Linked DNA regions of Homo sapiens. The protein of the gene in region 2 purifies or fractionates together with the protein of the main gene of each other region. This does not show direct contact. Each region holds a gene or a part of one and is shown on either strand. Other genes may lie near its edges.

Region 1 (8,182 bases), about 20 Mb from region 2:
ATATTCCGGCATTTTTCCTTTAATCTATGTTTGCAGGGTTGTGAGTTGTGCTGAATAGTATGAAATGTGTTATTAGTGGACGCACCACTGTTGACCTCAGAGCATGTGACTAGACAGTGCAGGAGGAGATGTTGTCATGTTACTTTGGATATAAAACGTCCCTAGGTGACCTTGTGGGCCTGATCCACGGTGAAAGGTGGGGAGAGGGTACTGGAGCAGGGCAGAGGGACTGGATGAGCCTGCATGGGGAGGAAGGCGTGACTGAGGGAAGACAGCTCAGCCCCCCAGGGGAAACCTGAGTTCAGTGTTGGGGAATGTGAGGACACAATGGCGGGGCAGGATGGCCCTGGCACCAGCGGTGCTGGGGACCGTAGGGGGCCATGCTTTGTGAGAGGCAAACTTGGCTCCAAGGATGTGAGGCTGGGAGCATGGAGGTGAAAAGGCCGAGAGACAGAGGGGAGCTGAGGCAGGCAGGGCAGAGACGGGGGGCCCAGCAGGGCCTGGGGCAAGAAATTAAGGATGGGGCAGGGTACCTCCAGCAACTTAGTCACACTGAGGGGATGGGAGGGGTAGCAAGGGACTGGGTGGGGACAAAGTGACAAGATGGGGAGTAGGGAAGTGGGCACTAGTTTGTGTGTTAATAGGTCAGCAAGTCTTTTAGAGTCCTGGGAAGTAAAATAAAAATTAAAACAACAAAAACAAGCCGGACAGGGCAGCACATTCCTGTAGTCTCAGCCACTAGGTAGGCTGAGGTGGGAGGATCACTTGAGCCCAGGAGGTTGTGTCTGAGCCTCCCAGCTACTCGGGAGGCTGAGGCAGGAGAATCGCTTGAACTCAGGAGGCGGAGGTTGCAGTGAGTCAAGATTGTGCCATTGCACCCCAGCCTAGGCAATAAGGTGAGACTCCATCTCAAAAAAAGATAATAATAATAAGGGGAAAACTCAGAGATGGAATTACATGCACCAGGTGTAGTGTGAGCAAAGGATTAACTTCCTGATACATTCTTGTTTCCCATATATATAGCTATCAAGGTCATCTTTTAGTAATGAGTTAAGTTCTTTCTTTTCCAACTCAAAATTTGTCTGCATCTTTACCCAAATATCCAGATCTGATACTCTAGGCTTGGGCTAATATAGTGGGGTGGAGGAGGCTTGGGTTAAGGTTTAAAGTTCCAAGGGCTGAACCGGAATAAATGGTGTATTTATCAAGGGAAGAGCAAGGCAAAACCAGCAAGTCCAAACCATGGAGGCCTCAACCGAGGTGAGGGGAAAAGTTAGGGAGCCTTAGGAAAGCTCTGAGGAGGGACCCCAATTAGGGGGACCGTAGTTAGGGTATGAGGTTTGTGAGATCAGGACTGGAATTGCTGCAAGAGACCCTATGATTGGGTGGCAGCAGCATGTTGTGGAGATGAGCCTGCTTCCTCAGCCTCTTCCTCTTGTCAGAACCCTTTGCCTCTCCCTACACACGCACACACACATGCATGCACCATGCTACAGAAACCTTTCTCAGTCTTGCCATTCTCTCAAATTATGCGTTGGTCTTCCCTTCATCTTCAGATTCTTTAAAGAGTAATCAAAGTTCCCACTTCTAGCATGATGAAGTGAGGAGGTCAACAAATCTTTCCAAAATGTAACTGTATAGCTGGACAAACCATTTAGCATTCTGCAATTTTACCAAAGGCACGGCACAAATGGGGATGTGTTTAAGAATGAAAGCTGGCCAGGCGCGGTGGCTCACGCCTGTAACCCCAGCACTTTGGGAGGCTGAAGCAGAAGGACCACTTGAGCTCAGGAGTTCAAAAACAGCCTGGGCAACTTGGTGAGACCCCCGTCTGTACAAAAAAAAAATCAAAAAAGGCATGGTGGTGCACACTTGTGGTCCCAGCTACATGGGAGGCTAAGGCGGGAGAATCATTTGAGCCCAGGAGATTGAGGCTGCAGTGAGCTGTGATCACACCACTGCACTCCAACCTGGGCAACAGAGTGAGACAGACCCTGTCCCTAAAGAAAAAAAAGAAGAATTAAAGTGAGCCTTGGATAAGACCAGCCTGTGTCCGTGGCATCTTTGCCCAGGCTGCTACCCCCATTTACCCCAGCTGTTGATAACACACACAGCGGCCCCCAGCAGGGCAGCCTGTGGAGATAAGCTCCCCTGCCACCTCGCTGCAGGGGCTGGAGGCAAGAGTGAGGAAGGTTTTGATTTGCAGCATGGCTAGTTAAGGTGGTGATATCAGTGACCAGGAGGAAGAAAGGCCACTGACTCCTAGCCTGAGGCTCTGGGCCTTTGGAGACGAGCAAACGACCTGCAGATTAGTCATGGATGTAAGAGGGAGCTCCGGGAGGTCGGAGAGCCAGAGGGAGCTTAGTAAACTCTTCACACTACCCAAATGGACTGAAGGCTCATAGCTGGCAGAGATTAGAGCAAGCCCAAGCCATGTCCATATGCCCAGGGCACACAGCCTGTGTGTGTGCCGGTGCCAGTGTTAGGAAGTAAAAGCCGGAACACCCTTGCAAATGGCCCGGGGCGTGCCTCCTCCCCATTGCACATAGATCCAGCAGCAGATGGTGGAAACCATATTGGCTTTAACTGATGTTTGACTGACGAACTATGCAAACAAGAAGCGACCTCTAGGGAGTCAGTCTGAAAAATTAAAGCAAACAAATGCCAACAATAAAACTTAGCAATGACCTGAGTGAGTGCACACTGTGGAGGAGACAGGCTTCCTGCATGGAGTCCAGCCAGGAGACAGTACAGAATGCATGGAGCAGCTATTGGAAGACATTGAAAACTAAATAGTTGCAGGCAGCTTTCCCAAGAAGACCAGAACTTGAAGTACCACCAAACCGGTGGTGAGATAACCATGTTTCCCCTATGGCATCCCGTGACTAACCTGGCAGTGGGCACCAGGGTGCAGATAGAAAGAGCTCCAGAAGATGCCCTCTATTTCTGGCTCAAGTAACGGGAAAAGGGTCTCCTAACATTCCGAGGGAATCCAGAAGTTCGTTCCTCCCCATTTTTCTTTTCCCTGTTCTCTCATACCTCAGCCCACAAGCAGTCCCACAGTGGCACTGGCACCAGCCCCAAGAGGAGCCCAGGAGCCAAGACGCAGGAGGGAACCTTCTCCAACTGACAGAGCTGTGGTCCCAAGAGGGCAGAAACAATCCATGTTGCTTCTCTTCCAATTCAGTCCTCCCACTGCTTGGCTTCAGATGTAGAAATGCATGGTAGAGCCAGATACCGAAAGCCTGTTTTCTGCTTGGAAGACTAAAAAGAGAAGCCTCAGCAAATGAAAGCAACAGGGTAATTGCTGAGAGAGAGTTAATCAGTGAAGCAACCCCATTAACCTGTCTATAAACCCCAGGGCTCATTCTTGAGCTGCTCCTGCATAGATCTCGTCCTGTTCAACACACCAAAGATTGACAGCTGAACTGAGAGACCATCACCCACAGACACAACTGGCCACTGGGTGGTGCACAAGTCAGACAGAACTGAATAGTCCTGTGAAGACTCTGGACACTGAACTGACTTTGGAACCAGACTGCAGAATGGAGGGGTGGGAACTTGTGGCTTGAACCTAATCAGGTAGATTGCCTGGCCAAAATGAAAATACCTATCATCTCCATAGGATTTAATTTCATTCAATGATTTTTTTTTTTTTAGTAAATTTGCAATGTTTTACAGCCTTCCCCAAAATCTAATTCCAAAATATCTCTATCACCCCAACGAGAGACTCCATTCACGTTGGCAGTCACATGCACTCCCAGATTTCCCCTCCACCCAGCCCTTGGCAATCACTAGTCTACTTTCTGTGTCTTTGAGTTTGCCTACTCTGGATATTTCATATAAATGAAATGATATATGAGGTTTTGTGATTGGCACCTTTAATTTAGAATAATGTTTTCAAGGCTGATTCATGTTGTAGTATGCATTGGTACTTCATTATTTTTTATGCAAAAGTAATATTCTATTGTATGGCTATACCACATTTTTCTTTGAGACAGAGATCTCACTATGTCGCCCAGGCTGGAGTTTAGTGGCTCTTCACAGGCCTGATCACAGCTCCTGCATGGATCAAGGAGCATCACTGCAGCTGCAAACTGCAGCTTCAAACTCTCCGGCTCAAGCGACCCTCCTGCCTCAACCTCCCCAGTAGCTGGGCCTACAGGCACGTGTGTCTGTGCCCAATAATACCACATTTTAAAAATCCATCTTCAGTAGATGGAAATTTGGATTGTTTCCACCTTTTACTAATAAAAATAGTACTGCTATAAACATTCATGTATAGGTTTTCTTTTGTTTTTGTTTTTTCTTTTTTGTAGAGATGGGGGTCTCGCTGTGTTGCCCAGGCTGGTCTCAAATTCCTGGACTCAAGTGATCCTCCCATCAAAAACTCCCAAAGTGCTGGGATTACAGGCGTGAGCCACTATGCCTGGCCTGTATACAAGTTTTTGTGTAGACATGTTTACATCCAATTAATGAACACAGGATGTCTTTCCATTGATTTAGCTCCTCTTTAATTTCCTTCAACAGTGTTCTGTAGTTTCCAGTCTACAAGTCTTACACTTTTGGGTTAAATTTATTCATAATTATTTTATTATTTTTGATAATATTATAAATGGAATTGTTTACTTAATTTTACTTGAATTGTTCCTTGCTGGTGTATAAGTAGACATCTCATTTTTTTAGTTGACCTCGTATGGTACAATCTCTTTGAACTCATTTATTATCACTGATAGTTTAGGTCTTTTTTTTTCGAGGTTTCATTAAGGTTTTCTATAGATAAGATCATGTCAAGACACCCTCAGACCACAGGGCGGCGCCACGAGCCCGGCCGAGTGCAGCTGGAGCGCCGACGTCGCCGAGGATACACAGTGCTGAGGCAGAACGCAGGTTCGTCACAGTGGGCCTCCGTGGGCGGCGCCGCACGCTCGTCACAGTGGGCCTCCGCCGGCTACGCCGCTGCTTCAGTGGCTTGCAGGCACTTTCCTCTTGGAAGTGGCGACTGCTGCGGGGCTGAGCGGTGCTCGCACGCGTCTCGGGAGCCAGGTTGGCGGCGCGATGAGGCGCAGCAAGGCCGATGTGGAGCGGTACGTCGCCTCGGTGCTGGGTCTCACCCCGTCGCCTCGACAGGTGAGTGGGTCTCGAAGAGAGCGACGGCGGCCTCGACCCGGCCGGGGGGCGGCGGCGGCGGCGGCGGCGGCGGGGGGGGCGGCGGCGGCGGCCGCCTCGATGGCTCAGGCGTCATGTCTCCCGAGGGGCGCTGCTCCGTGGCGCGCTCTGTTGAGGCGCCGGCCGGCTGGCGCAGTCCTGTGGGCGGCGTGGCGCTTGCAAGCGCAGGAAGAGTCCTGGGGGGACCGCGGCGGGCGGGAGACCGTTGGCGCCGGCGCTTCCTCTTAATCCCGGCTTGTTCCCGACGCTTGTTCCCGACGGTGCTCGCTCCTGGGCCCGTCCTGGCCCGGGCTTTCTGGCCGATCGCGCACCCCGTAGTACCCGCGCGGCCTAGTTCTCGGGGGCTTGGGCACCCGGGTGCTGTATCGGCGGGTTTCTTCCCATCTCCTGGACATTTACTTTATATGCTGCGGCGGAGGTCGTACCTCCTTGGCCTGGAGGAACCCAGTGGGGACTGACGCAGCTCCGGGTGAGCTTTGGCGGCTGCGTCGAGTGACAAGGTAGGCATCTCAGCGCGGACATTTGCAATGGCCCGACGGCGCAAATGACACGGAAAGTCCCCTTGTTTTGAGTATGAGGTGTTTGTCGCTGTCCCTTTGTAAGGGTCCAGCTCCACTCCACTCCTCATACTCACCTCCCTCGCCCCCCTCCCCGCCCGGAACACTTTGGTAGCTGCCTTTGCTTAAAAAAAAAAAATTCTAAAGTTCTTACAAATCGTTAGTATGGCTTGCAATTTTTAACCTTTTCCACAGATGTTTTAAGGGTATTTTTCCTCTTTACATGTAAATAATGCTGAGATTACAGGTGTGAGCCACTCTGCTCAGCCTGATTTTTTTTTTTTTAAACAAGCTTAAAAAAAAAAAAAGCAAGTTTGGAGCCTTTCTGAGATTCTTAGTGGGGACCTTGGCTTCCAAAAGATTAAAAACCACTGGTCTAGACAGAAGTTAGAATGTTCTTTCAACTACATAACTTCTCCATTAAATAAAGTGGAGTGGTGGCAGAATTTTGACGATTGGTTATTATGACACCTCTCTTACATTTAGAGTCTTTTTTTTCCCCCAAATTTAAAGTCATTTACATTAGAACCTGGGGATTTCAGCGGAATATGGATTAACTAGTGAGTAACTGGAACATGTGAAGCTATTCTGTGAAGTTAGGTTTGAGTGAAATGACAAAACAGGGTGCTTTGGATAGAAGGTAAAGAATGGAGGGAGAAGAGGCAGTGGCTGTGAAGAATATGAAGAGGTTAGTATTCTCCCCCAGTTTGGCAGAGGCTGGCCATCTGTGAACTGCCCATGCTTTCTAGAATGTCGGAGTTTTGGAGTGTGATGATGCGTCTGTATATCATATCTTTCTAGTCTTCCATTGCGCTTTCATTTGTTAGTCTCCTCTTGTTTTGCCATTTTTCTACTCCCTCACATGTGCTTTTGCCCTTCTTAAAAATATTCTTCGTCTGTAATCCGAGCATTTTGGGAGGCCGAGAGACCAGCCTGACCAATATGGTGAAAATCCGTCTCTATTAAAAATACAAAAATGAGCCGGGCGTGGTGGCAGCGCCTGTAGTCCCACCTACTCGGTAGGCTGAGACAGGAGAATTGCTTGAACCCTGGAGGCAGAGGTTGTGGTGAGCAGAGATTGCGCCACTGCACTCCAGCCTGTGTGACAGAGCGAGACTCTGTCTCCAAAAAAGAAAAAAAGAAAAAAAATATAATTCTTTCTCTAGTTTTTCTTTTTCCAGATGGCTTCTGTTTAGTTTTTCTATGTTCTGTCAAGTCGGTTTCTTATTCTGCAGCTGATTCCTACTTCTCAAAGTCTACTTGACAGCTCTTATTTTTATTTGTATTTTTTTTAGAATAGGGTCTTGCTGTGTTGCCCATCAAATTTTTGGGCATAAATGATCCTCCTACCTCTGTCTGCTGAGTACTTAGGACTACAGGCAGGCACCTTTGACAGCTGTTAGTTGTTTTTTCTGCCCTTTACATCTATACTTCATACTTCTGAGTAACACACATATATACTTTTGTTATTTTTAATTCCCTTTCTCCCATTTTAGACATTTTCTTTTCTTTTCTTTTCTTTTTTTTTTTGAGACGGAGTCTCGCTCTATCGTCCAGGCTGGAGTGCAGTGTCGCGATCTCGGCTCACTGCAAACTCTGCCTCCGGGGTTCACGCCATTCTCCTGCCCCAGCCTGTAGCTGGGACTACAGGCACCCGCCACAACACTCGGCTAATTTTTTAGCATTTTTAGTAGAGACGGGGTTTCACCGTGTTAGCCAGGATAGTCTCGATCTCCTGACCTCATGATCCGCCCGCCTCAGCCTCCCAAAGTGCTGGGATTACAGGCGTGAGCCACCGCGCCCGGCCCCATTTTAGACATTCTGTACTGGCTATTATGCTCCTCCAAAACTGTCCTCAGACACTTTGGTTTGCCCCTCATTCTTTCAGTACTGTTACTGCAGTTTTTGTTTAAATGAATAGTTAACATTTATATAAATAGAAGGTAAATATTTTTGCATTTGAATTGCCCTTGTTGTGCAGTTTTTTGTTGTTTTTTTTTTATTATACTTTAAGTTTTAGGGTACATGTGCACATTGTGCAGGTTAGTTACATATGTATACATGTGCCATGCTGGTGTGCTGCACCCACGTTTTCCTGGACTGAATAATTGCTTTATTTTTTGGTTTGCTTGTATGTTGTGTTACTACTTGCTTACTTAAACTCAGCAATTTAAACCCTCAAATGTGGTCAAACTGGTCAGATAATCCCATCAATTTCAGCTTAAAACACTGATTGATTGATTGATTGTCTGTCTACCTGGAATACCCTTACTAACCAACTTCTCCAACCCGGATTGGTTTTTCTTCCTCTTTGCTACACAGCTGTGCTCTTGGGACTTCCCTTTATCACCAGTTTGAGAATTCCCTTCATCTTTTTTCTGAGTTAGACCCTTTGTTTCTTGTATCTCATGTCCTCTTCATTTACTTTCTTTGTTTTGGTGTAGCATAGTCTCACT
Region 2 (3,696 bases):
CCCATTCCTTGGCCTGGTTCATCCCCAGCTTCCTGGCAAAGTTCTGCTCCCTGAAGCAGGAAGAGGCTGAGATTAATGCCAACGAAGTGGGCCGTGGGCCTGGGAAGACTGTGTGGCTGGCTGAGGGTGGGCACTAAGCTGGCCACCCCACCCCCGACATGGACATGGCTGTGCTGTGGCGGAAGGGGTGGTGCGGGCATGGCCACGGCACTCGAGACAGCCCTCCGAGGAGGAGGGCGAGCCTGGCTGGACCCCCTGTCTGCGGTGCTGTGTCAGGGCAGCAGAGGACAGCCTCTTGCCCCCAGGAGTGTGCAGTGTGGGCAAGAGACAGAGTGATCATGTGTTTGGAACGCAGCTCCAGCCCAGCCAGGGGACCAGAAAAGCCCTCCCGCTTCCAGGGAGGATGTGCATGGCTCTGCCAATGCCTGTCTCCCAGGGCCGCTGGCAGGTCCCAGGATGCGCAAGACTGGGCTGCCCAGGCAGGTCCCTGCAGACAGCGGGGCCTGGGCTAGAGGCCAAGGGCTGGGACTGGGAAGGGACGCGACGCCTGATAGCCAGTGAGGAGCCAGGCACACAACTTGGAAATAAACAAGCTTTATTTTCAGTTTCAACAGGTAAGGCGATACCTGCTTCATCGTGTGCTTTTATGTAAATGCCAAATAGCAAAATAACAGCTAGAAAATAAACAGTTTGTCAGTTTGGAGATCAAGTACTTTATCTATCTTGAGTGTTATCTATCTTGGAATTTAGCCAGGCCTAAAAGTAGCGGAAGTGTCAGGAAATGCTATAGAGAGCCAATCTCCAGCTGCAGGTTGGTGGGCCTGGCACTGACCAGATGCGGGTAGCTCAAAGCACCGAGCGATGCAGGCGCCGTTTCTGCATTGCCTGCAGCCTCTTCTGCCTCTCGGCAAAGTTGTTCTTCGGGGTCTGCTTCAGTGCGGGCAGGATGGCACGCTCCGCCACAGGTGGGCTCAGAAGCAGGCTGGGGGCGGGTAGAGGGACTGTCACCGTGAGCATCCTCGCGAGTGGAGTGTGTGGGGAGTGCGGCCTGCATGGCCCTCACGGGGGCACAGAGAGGCCTCAGCGAGCTCCGCTTCTGCGCTGCCACGCTCCCTTCCCCACTCCCTCCCTGGGGCCCAGGCTGCAGGGCTGCCCCACTGTCCCCATGCCTGTGGGACTTACCATTTCTTGGAGAGGCTCTTGGTGGAGACCTTGGGGAAATGCGTGGCTTCTTGGTCCCTGGGTGAAGGAAGAGTCAGCAGTGAGCTGTGGATAGGCCCCCAGGGATGGGGCAGGGGTGCACCAGGCACTCACCTGGGAAAGCTAGCTTCCTCCGGGACTGCCTGGGGCCTCTGGCTCCCTTCCAGGAGGGACTTGAGGTGCTGCAGCTGAAAGGCAGGGGCAGGGGCGTGGTGGGGCCTGTGGCGGTGCCAGACTGCCCAGGGCCACCCCCACCACCCAGGGCCTCACCTCTTGGGTCTGCAGGAGGTTGGTATTCCACAGCTCGCGGATGAGCACTTCGCACTGCCTAAGTGTGGTGGGCTTTCGCAGGGGAAGGGGCAGGATCATTGGGGGGTGTGCCGCCGCCCCCATCTGCCTGCCCTGGTGCTGGCTGTTCCCCATACAGGCAGCTCCTGCGTTAGAGGCCTCTGCTTTCTCCTTTCTGAAACAGTCATTGCAGCAGCCAGAGGTGACCTGCCCAGGTGCGTCTAACCACCCACCCAGCATACCTCCCCAGGCAGCGCCCAGGCCAATGTGGGGAAGAGGGCCTGGTTCCCCTCTCCCACTGAGCAGGGTGCTCTGGGCACCAGGTGGGGGTCTCTGGGACTGGGGCCTGTCCCTTTCTCCCCTCTGAAGGTGCCCTAAGGGTCAGATGGGCTTCAGTGGGTGACCAGCTAGCTGCCAGGCTGCTCTTGATCGTGACCCCACACCCAGTGGGGCATCTTGCTCCAGGCCTGGTCTCGGGATGTGCAGATGCAGGAGCCTGTCCTGCTGGTTGCGCTGCTGAAAGTGTGCGCTCTGTAGCATCTCAGGGCAGTCCCGCAAACTCAGGGATCACCAGAACCTGTTCCTACTCTGACCTGCTGGCCTAGTGCCCTCCAAAGGCAGGCTGTGGCCAGGGGCAGCAAGCCTTCTCTTGGTCAGAATATTACTTTACTTTTCTCTGAGGAAGTGGTTTAGGGGCCGCTACTGGCCCCCCTCGTGGGCTCAGGTCAGCACAGGTACTCTGCAGGACCCCCAGGGGAAGGGAGGAAGACAGCGCCCACCGATGGGTAGAGCGTGGCCGTCATCTGCTATCATGAGCCCTGGAGACAGGCCCCTGGAGCTAGGGGCAGAGCAGTTGGCTGACTGCAGGGCGTGAGCCTAGTAAATGTAGTCATGGGGCCCTTAGGGTGCAGGCAAGACTTACCTGGCCTGCCCTTGCACCCCAGGAACACCCAAGCCTTACCTGGCCTGCCCTTGTACCCCAGGAACCTTGTCCAGCTTGCTGTTGTGAAGTAGGGGCTCCTCTTCCAGGTCCGCCTTCTGGGGGACGTCAGCTTTTGAATCTTGCTTGTTGAAGGAGCCGGGCTGGGGCCTGGCCTTGCCTTGAGAGTTGGCTGCAAGTCAGACCCTACAAGGCCGGTCACTGCAGGCACCAACAGTCACCGCCCAAGTTTTCCAGGAACAGCTGTGTGTACCCAAGAAGCCCCTGTCCCTGCCTCAGTTTCCTCCTCTGTAAAGGGAAGCCTGCCTTGGAGGGTTCTGGGGGGAATCAATGTGGTTCTGAGGGTGAAGCCCATGGGTGGTGCCTGTGAACACTCTAGAACAATCAACATAGTGGAAGCTGGCCCCATCTTGGGTAAAATGAAACTGCATGAGAGGCTTGGGACCCAGCCTGCATGGGTTTCCTCGGCAAGGACAAGGCCCGTCCAGCACCTGGGCCCATCACAGGAATGGTGAGGGTTAGGGCTGGGCTGAGGAAAATGCCCGGCCTCACAGAGTGGGGAAAAGAGGCTCTCTGCTCCCAGTTCACTCTGCAGAAGGTGCCATGAGCCCAGGGCTCCGTGGGCAGTGCCATCCCTCCTGTGTCCTGCCTGCTTGTGGCGGGGACACGGCCAAGCAGGGCTGCTGCTGGGCAGCCAGGGTACGTCCTCCCTAGGCGGCCACCCGGGGAGGCCCCTCCTGCCTGCTTGCTGCCCCACCCTGGGGTGCCTGCTGTGAGGCCTTACTGCCCTGTGACTGGTCCCTGGTCCTGCCCACCCCCCCTTAATCCCCTCCCGGTGGCTTCAGCTTGCAGGGCTCTTTTCAGCTGCACCTTCATCCCCAAATCCTGGAGCTTGGCCCAGCAGAGGGTACCTGGTCAGCACCCCTAGAGGCCACCCAGGCTGGGGTCCCCGTGGGGCACTCACCCCTGTGAGCACATGGACGCCAGCCTGCTCACCTGAATTAGAGATGGACTTGACAGACTGGAAGCTTGACGTGGAGAGGCTGTCTGCAGGAGAGCGCACAGTGTCGGCGCTACCGCCCGCAAGACGCCCATGCTTGCCTCCTGGCCTGTGTGTCCGTGAGGAGCCCTCCTTCAGCCTGGCAGGGCTGGGTCCTCCCGGCTCTACCCACACTCCGTTGATGCAGACCCAGCGAGCGCCCAAGGGAGCAGAGGCCCTGGAAAGGTGGTTTCCTGAGGGGCCATCTGGAAAGCAGGAGGGCTTGGGA
Region 3 (7,794 bases), on a different chromosome or scaffold from region 2:
TTTGAGGATATTGTTGAATGATCATAAAAATGGTTCTGTTGAATAGAGGGAAATTTCTGGTAGTGCACTCCAAGGCTTTTGGTCTTGACACTCTTCTCTTTCATGTGTTTAACAATTATTTGGATTAAGCATTGAGAGGGATATTGGATAATTAGCAGTTAATAGGACTGACTTTAGAGTGAGAAAAATCTGCAGATGTGCAAGTCCTTTATATAAAATGGTGTAGTATTTGCATATAACCTGTGCACATCCTCCTGTATACCTTAATCTCTGAATAACTTATAATACATAATACAATGCAAATGCTAGGTACAGAGCTGTTGTACTAATTTGCTTTTTTGTTTGTGGTATTTTTACTGTTCCATTATTTTCGTGTTTTTGTTTGTTTTTCAGACAGGCTCCCACTCTGTTGCCCAGGCAGGAGTGCAGTGGCACAATCTTGGCTCACTACAGCCTTGACTTCCTAGGCTCAAGCAATCCTCCCACCTCAGCCTCCCAAGTAGCTGGGACTAAAGGCACGCACCACCACACCCAGCTAATTTTAGTATTTTTAGTAGAGAGGGGGTTTCGCCATGTTGCCCAGGCTGGTCTCCAACTCCTGGGCTCAAGCAGTCTTCCTGCCTTGGCCTTCAAAAAGTGCTTGGATTGCAGGTATGAGCCACTGTGCCCAACTAAAATTTTAAAATATTTTCAATCTGTAATTAGTTGAATCTGAGAATGGGAAATTCACAGATATGGAGAACTAACTGTGTATCAGGACACAAACTAGCCAAAAGGAGGTTAAGCTCTACTGCTTCTGACTTCTGACCAAAAATTCTCTCAAACTTTTCATTCAGAGGGCCTCCCACTTGCCATGAAACAGAGGTGAGGGTGGAAGGACCACACAATCCAGTATAGTTCTGTAATCACAAGGATCTCACAACTAAAACAATTTTGCAAGTTCATCACTTAGTCTTTATATTACTATCAAAGCTGACTAAGCTTTTTCTGCCGTTAGACTTCTGCTGTTAGACATATTCTTAACGATCTCGAATATTTAATTGAAAACTTTAGTATCCACAATTCTATAACTTTGAGAATTATAAAGAACCTGTCTTTATAAAGGGTTTATTTACCTTCCAATTGTCTTATATACTCATCTACACCCATTTTATTCATTTAAATAGATTAAAATAATCCTTCGCAAAAAAAAAAAAAAAAAAAACAACTCTCATTTGTTTATGTACATCACAGGCATACCATTATATACGGGGATCTAGGATCTGTGCAAACTACAATCCACAGGCTAAATCTGGCCCACCATCATTTTCATAAATCAAGTTTCTTTGAAGCACAACTTCAGTCATTCATGTGCTCACATATTTGTTCAGTACCGTCTTTGGCTGCTTTTGAGCTACAATGGCAAAACTGAGTAGTTGCAACATAACCACTTGGCCTAAAAAGGCCTGAAATATTTACTGTCTACCCCTTTATAGACAGTTTGTTCATCCCTGTAGGTATATACCAGTTAATTCCCTGTGGACATGCGGTGGACACAGGCATTTTTTTGAAGTGTCATTTCAAGAGCATTATAAAAACTAGAAATAATTTTGCTTAAACACACTTTCAAAAGGCAAGGAGAATTGCAGATCAAATGTCTAAGAAAAAAGAAAAGTTTTTTTCCAAATGATTTAACAACCTGCTCATGGCTGTAAACTAACTATACCACAGTGAGGTCTTGCACAAATTGTTTAGCATTTTTTAAAGCATAATAAATATACAGACATCAGTGAAATTATTTTATTTCAGTAACCCCAGAACATCAAGGCTACCAAAGGCCAGTTGGTGCTAACTGCAGAAATCATGTTTTGCCCTTACTTGCTATTTCAGGAACTGATTAACACAAATAGTCTCAAGGTGTTCCTTCTAATTAGAAAATTCATAAGCTTTAGCCAGTGACTATCCACTTGGCTAATGGCGTTATCATTCCATGAGTCCTTGGTTCGAATCTTCGTACATACAGGAGGTTTCCCGCCAAATTTTTTCTCTATACTTGCTAAACAGAAATCCCAAACATAAAATACTCAAGGGCGAAAAGAAAGGGGCAAAGTGATATAGATTTGGATCTAGATCTAAATATAGATCTACAGATCCATCTATCTAAAATGTTTTGGAAGACAATCTGATGTGAAGAAATCTGGAGAATTTTCCCTAAGCGTCTGGGACAAAAATTAAAATCAACTGTATACAAAAAAAAAAAAAAGAAAAACTTAACGTATTCTTATGTAGTGAAATTCAGTAAGAGCCCAAAGTAAGGACCTACACATTCAGTAAAGCCTTTTTATACAGGAACTAAAAGGTTCACCAGGCCATTGTGTTGTTTTAATCACTCCGCCAGCCAACCAGGCAGTGAGAAACCCAGACTCAAGTGTGTTTTCTCTCCTCTCCGGGAAGCTTTATTTCCTTCGGGCAGAGTGGCCTCTGTACCGGTGGTTCAGAGGCATCCATCTTCCTCCCCAAATCCTATTACCAAAATGTCTTTTAAACACTCGGGTAAAAGCGTCTAAATGACTTTCCTACGGCAGGCCCATGTGCATAGATTTACGGGTGACCAGGTGGAACAAAAAGGAATAAAACCGCTTCTCAGAAGACAATTTTCCAACAAGGGACACCAAAAACTGGACAAAAACGTAAAGGCCCACTTAAAAGGCTTCTCCTCTTAGTTTAGGCTGCTCATTTACAAAGAGCAGGTCCACTGGTTCCTGGAGAACGACCTAGAGGAAGAGTCCCGACCCGGGGAAGAGCAGGCGCAGAGCCGACCCGGAGGACCGCCCAAGGGGCGGTCCCGGGAGCAGGGGCGGGAGGGCGAGCGCAGCAGGCGGAGGAGGCCGCGGGCCCCGTGCGCGCACTCACACACGTGGCGGGCAGGGCTGCGCGGCGTTCCGAGGAGCCTCGACCAGAAGCAGCAGGAAAAATGCGCGCAGAGTTGAGATGACCAGCGAGTAGCGGAAAGGGGAAGGGACGGTACGGGGAAAGGCATGCGATGGGAGCGGGCTGGCTTCTAGTTTTCCTTCCTTTCTCCTCCAATAACTCACCAAGGAAATCTCACTGAGAAGACGGGGGAAATGAAAGGAAATGGGGGAGCAGTGTCCACGAGCCGCTAAAGCCTCCACAGGAGACGGAGCACCGTACCTGCAGCTAGCTCCCCGGTCCCGCCCCCGCGCAGTGGACTCTGCGCCTGTGCCTGCGGCGGCCAGCGTGCCTCCGCTCCACGCCCTTCCCCGAGCGGCCTCGCGCAGGGCACGTGACTCTCCTTTCTCACTGTAGCCTATCCGAGCACTCCGATCTCCTCAGGCTCCTCCCCTCCCTCGTCTCCCTGGCGGCGCTGGCCTTGCGTCCTCGTGGTCTCAGCCGCTCGCTCCGCCCACACCGCGATTGGGGCCTGCTCACAAAAACCTTATTGGGTGACGCCTGCGCACCAGCTGCGCTTTGCCGTCTCTACTAGGATTTTTCTTTTTTCCCCAGATACACAGAAATAGAAAAGAGCACAGTTTTTAAGGGGACATCATTTTCACCCCGTTAACTTTCAAAGGCACGTAAAAACAGTGGCTTCCAAATGAGCTTCTCTAGCAGAAGGCGCTGCAGAAAGAGGGAAGAGGGGAGACCTAGTTTGCGGTGCTGCCTGCCACTTCCTCGTTGCCTAGTAACGGTTTCCACGGCAACCGCACAGTCAACGACGCTTAGCAATCCGGAGAGAAATAGGGTGTTTTCTTCCCGAGAGAGGACTGCTAAGAGGGGGTTAAAGGGGGACGATGTGAAGGAGAGAACCTGTGGTCCTTCAGAAGGCGAAGAAGAAAGAAAGGGGAAGCAGTGAAGAAAGGGACGGAGATACTGGGACAGGGAGAAAAAAGTTGTGGAGAGTAGCTTTTAAGGAGTCATTTGGTGGCCATGGATCCAACGTGCTCTTCTGAGTGCATTTATAACCTCATACCCAGTGACTTGAAGGAGCCTCCCCAGCCTCCTAGGTATGTGGATAAGCAAAGACTATCACTTGAAACAAGAATGGGGAATACTCAGTATTAATTAAGCATACATATACTGGAATTTTTAATAATAAATAAAATGTATTTTTGCCTCGATGAAGTAGCCTTGGAGGATAACTTGTTAGAGAAAAGGTCGAAATATCTAGGTATTCAGCATCTCACAGTTTTACAGAGAGGGCAGTCTGGCGCTGTGAGATGACCATTTTATTATATTACACTTAACCTCTTATTAATACGGTATGTGATTATTGTGTAATTTAATTATATGTGATATACAGCATAGTATGAAGTTTCATGTTGAAAAGAAAAAAATCACAATTCTATTATCTTGTTTAAGGATACTTGATGTTTGGTTTCAGGAGTTCGGTGTTGTATTTCTAACTGCACTACTCCCTCTCTAATGGGATAGGATAGGACTTTTCCCCCAAGATTTTTATGAAATATAAATTTACATTTGCTTTTGAGCCTCAGGTTTTTGATCAGTGAAACGAAATATCTACCACTATTAGGCAGTTTCTAAGGACTTTTTCAGATCTAATGGTTTAAATGGAAGGAAGAATTGGTGGATAGATAATGAACCAAAAAATATGTAATTGAGTTGAAATTTTACATAGGTCTTAGAACCTCTTAAATTCTCCAAATCTCAAAAACGTGCAAAGGAAGCACTTCAGTTACTCCCATCTGTAGGGACTTCTTAGAACTTACTTAAATCTGTGGGGAGCAAAGAAAGTAGTGGAGAAAATCTCATTTCTCCTAGGACTTGAAATGTTTCCTGTCTTTTACCATCATCCTTGTCCGTATGCAAGTCAAAACCACATTTGAAAAGGACTGGACTAAAAATCGGGCCTAGCAATTAATTGTCTTTGTGAACTTTAGAATAAAGTTTCATTTGTTTACTGATCTGTGAGATAAATGTACCAGATAATATCCAAGGCCCCTTTTAGATCTAATGGTCAATTATTTTTACTAGTATTAGGGTAATAGCTTCAACAAGTAGGCAGCTTCTTCAATTTTAAGTATCTGGTTTAAATTAGAGCAGTAACTGTATTACATCTCCATTAGCATATCAACATCTAGAGACTGGAAAGAGGAATGTAAAGTAAGTTATGGCACAGTTGCAGAATTTATTTTCAAATTTTCTATTGTTGCACCAACTTTTGGTTTCAAATTCCTGCATATTACATGAGATAAAACTCCTCTATAACAGATTGGTAGATTGTATTTCTATAGAATATTGAATTTGAGAGTTATTTTATTAGGTAGGTATTCTGTTCTTTGGCAAATTAAAAAGCTTTACTGCATCTAGACGATTTTTTTTTTCAAAAAAAATTTATAGGAACAGTCTTTATTCATTTGGCAAGCATTAATGGAGCCCCTATTATGTGTATAATATTGCACTAGTATATCTGTTCTTGGTGCTGTTGGAGTGATAGCACAGACTTCTTGGTTTTACTATGAAGAAATGAGTAGAAGAAAGATTTATGATTAGAGGAAATAGAGGCACCCAAATGTGATGCCAAAAGAATCATTTCTGTTAGGTTAAAGTCAATTTACACTGGCAAGATTCTGACAACTGCCTGGCTTTTGATCTCCCACGCCTCAGAGTTTACCGTCTTTTTGGGGAACTGAAATATGAACACTAAAATTTATCATTGAAAACCATAATGAGAGATGAAGATACTAAATGAGAACTTAGAAGATGAATGTATGTGACCAAAATCGGATGAAAGGCACTTTTCTGCAGTTGAACTATTGGCTGAGACTTAAGTTATGAAAGCCTCAGAGTCAATGGGAAGTCATGATTCAGTTTTCAAAATTTGAGTTACTCATGATGCATAAGATGGTTTCCAAGATTTTCACCAAATCTGTCACCCTTTTTTTTTTAATTACTTTTTTTTCAAGACGGAGTTTCACTCTTTTTGCCCAGGCTGGAGTGCAATGGCGCCATCTTGGCTCACTGCAGCTTCTGCCTCCTGGGTTCAAGCGATTCTCCTGCCTCAGCCTCCCGAGTAGCTGGGATTACAGGTCCCTGCTACCATGCCTGGCTAATTTTGTATTTTTAGTAGGGATGGGGTTTCACCATGGTGGCCAGGCTGGTCTTGACCTCCTGACCTCCAGTAATCCACCCACCTCTGCCTCCCAAAGTGCTATGATTATAGGCGTGAGCCACCACGCCTGGCCTATCACCCTTTATTGATGTCTGCAGTTATTGAATATCTCCAGTCATCCCCTCTTTCCATTTTGTTTAAAGCAATATTCCAGTTATGGTCTGAACAGTCCATGAAACCATTATCTCCTTTCCATAATTCTTGGCACAATATTTTCATCCATTCAGCCTAAGCTTCCATAAGCATTTTGACAGTCATGTCCAACTATTGGCTCACACTAAAATACCCTGTATGGATTTTGACTAAGGTTGGTCTCTCCCATCCTCTAATTATGTAGCTGATTCTTTTTTATCTCAACTCATTAATCTATGGAGATAGTTTTGCATTTGAATCTTTTATACATTCTGTTAACCATTCTTTTTGTGTCATTTGCAAATTTAATAAATATGTCTTTTATATCTCTTATCTATCATAGAACATAGTATATTAGTCTGTTCTCACGCTGCTAATAAAGACATACTCGAGACTGGGTAATTTATATTTCAAAAGAAGTTTAATTGACTCACAGTTTCACATGGCTGAGGAAGCCTTACAATCATGGCAGAAGGCAAAGGCGGAGCAAAGTCACATCTTACATGGTGGCAGGAAAGAGAGTGTGTGCAGGGGAACTCCCCTTTATAAAACCATCAGATCTCATGAGACTTATTCACTATCATGAGAGCAGCACAGGAAAGACCCACTCCCATGATTCAATTACCTATCACCAGATCCCTCCCATGACATATGGGAATTATGGGATCTCATCAATTTAATGTGAGATTTGCGTGGGGATGCAGCCAAACCATATCATTCTACCCCAGCCCCTCCCAGATCTCATGTCCTCACATTTCAAAACCAATCATACCTTCCCAACAGTCCCCCAAAGTCTTAACTCATTTCAGCATTAACTCAGAAGTCCACAGTTCAAAGTCTCATTTGAGACCAGGCAAGTCCCTTCTGCCTACAAGCATATAAAATCAAAAGCAAGTTAGGTACTTCCCAGATACAATGGGGGTCCAGGCATTGGGTAAATATAACCATTCGAAATAGCAGAAATTGGCCAAAACAAAGGGGCTATAGGCCCCTTGCAAGTCCAGATTCTAATAGGGCAGTCATTAAACCTTAAAGTTCCAAAATGATCTCCTTTGACTCCATGTCTCACATCCAGGTCACGCTGATGCAAGAGGTGGGATCCTATGGTCTTGGGCAGCTCTGTCCCTGTGACCTGGCACAGTACAGCCCCCATTCCGGCTGCTTTCATGGGTGGGCATTGAGTGTCTGCAGCTTTTCTGGGTGCATGGTGCATGCTCTCAGTGGATTTACCATTCTGAGGTCTGGAGAACAGTGGCCCTCTTCTCACAGCTCCACTAGGCAGTGCCCCAGTGGGAATTCTGTGTGGGGGGCTCCCACCCCATATTTCCCTTCCACACTGCCCTAGCAGAGGTTCTCCATGAGGGCTCTGCCCCGAAGCACATCTTTGCCTAGACATCCAGACATTTTGATACAACCTTTGAAATCTAGGTGGAGGTTCCCAAACCTCAATTCTTGACTTCTGTGCACCCGTAGTCCCAACACCATGTGGAAGCCACCAAGGCTTGGGGCTCGCACCCTCTGAAGCAATGGCC

Evidence for each region.
Region 1: the proteins of CCDC74B (region 2) and RGPD5 purify together in Homo sapiens (affinity purification with mass spectrometry, with the first as the bait; 2 studies listed by BioGRID). This does not show direct contact.
Region 3: the proteins of CCDC74B (region 2) and THNSL1 purify together in Homo sapiens (affinity purification with mass spectrometry; 3 studies listed by BioGRID and IntAct, with this or other methods). This does not show direct contact.

Annotation. Positions count from the first base shown.
Region 1 is NC_000002.12:109,789,408-109,797,589, forward strand, and holds the start of RGPD5 (RANBP2-like and GRIP domain-containing protein 5/6), read left to right. Parts: upstream 1-4,897; 5' UTR 4,898-5,058; coding exon 5,059-5,130; intron 5,131-8,182.
Region 2 is NC_000002.12:130,138,709-130,142,404, forward strand, and holds the end of CCDC74B (coiled-coil domain-containing protein 74B), read right to left. Parts: coding exon of another isoform or gene 3,476-3,696; coding exon 3,425-3,475; intron 2,672-3,424; coding exon of another isoform or gene 2,646-2,671; exon of another isoform or gene 2,630-2,645; coding exon of another isoform or gene 2,589-2,629; coding exon 2,450-2,588; intron 1,664-2,449; coding exon 1,471-1,663; intron 1,389-1,470; coding exon 1,315-1,388; intron 1,240-1,314; coding exon 1,183-1,239; intron 983-1,182; coding exon 847-982; 3' UTR 579-846; downstream 1-578.
Region 3 is NC_000010.11:25,012,070-25,019,863, reverse strand, and holds the start of THNSL1 (threonine synthase-like 1), read right to left. Parts: upstream 3,253-7,794; 5' UTR 3,172-3,252; exon of another isoform or gene 3,075-3,171; intron 1-3,074. Other genes in the region: ENKUR (enkurin), read left to right, coding at 3,928-4,004.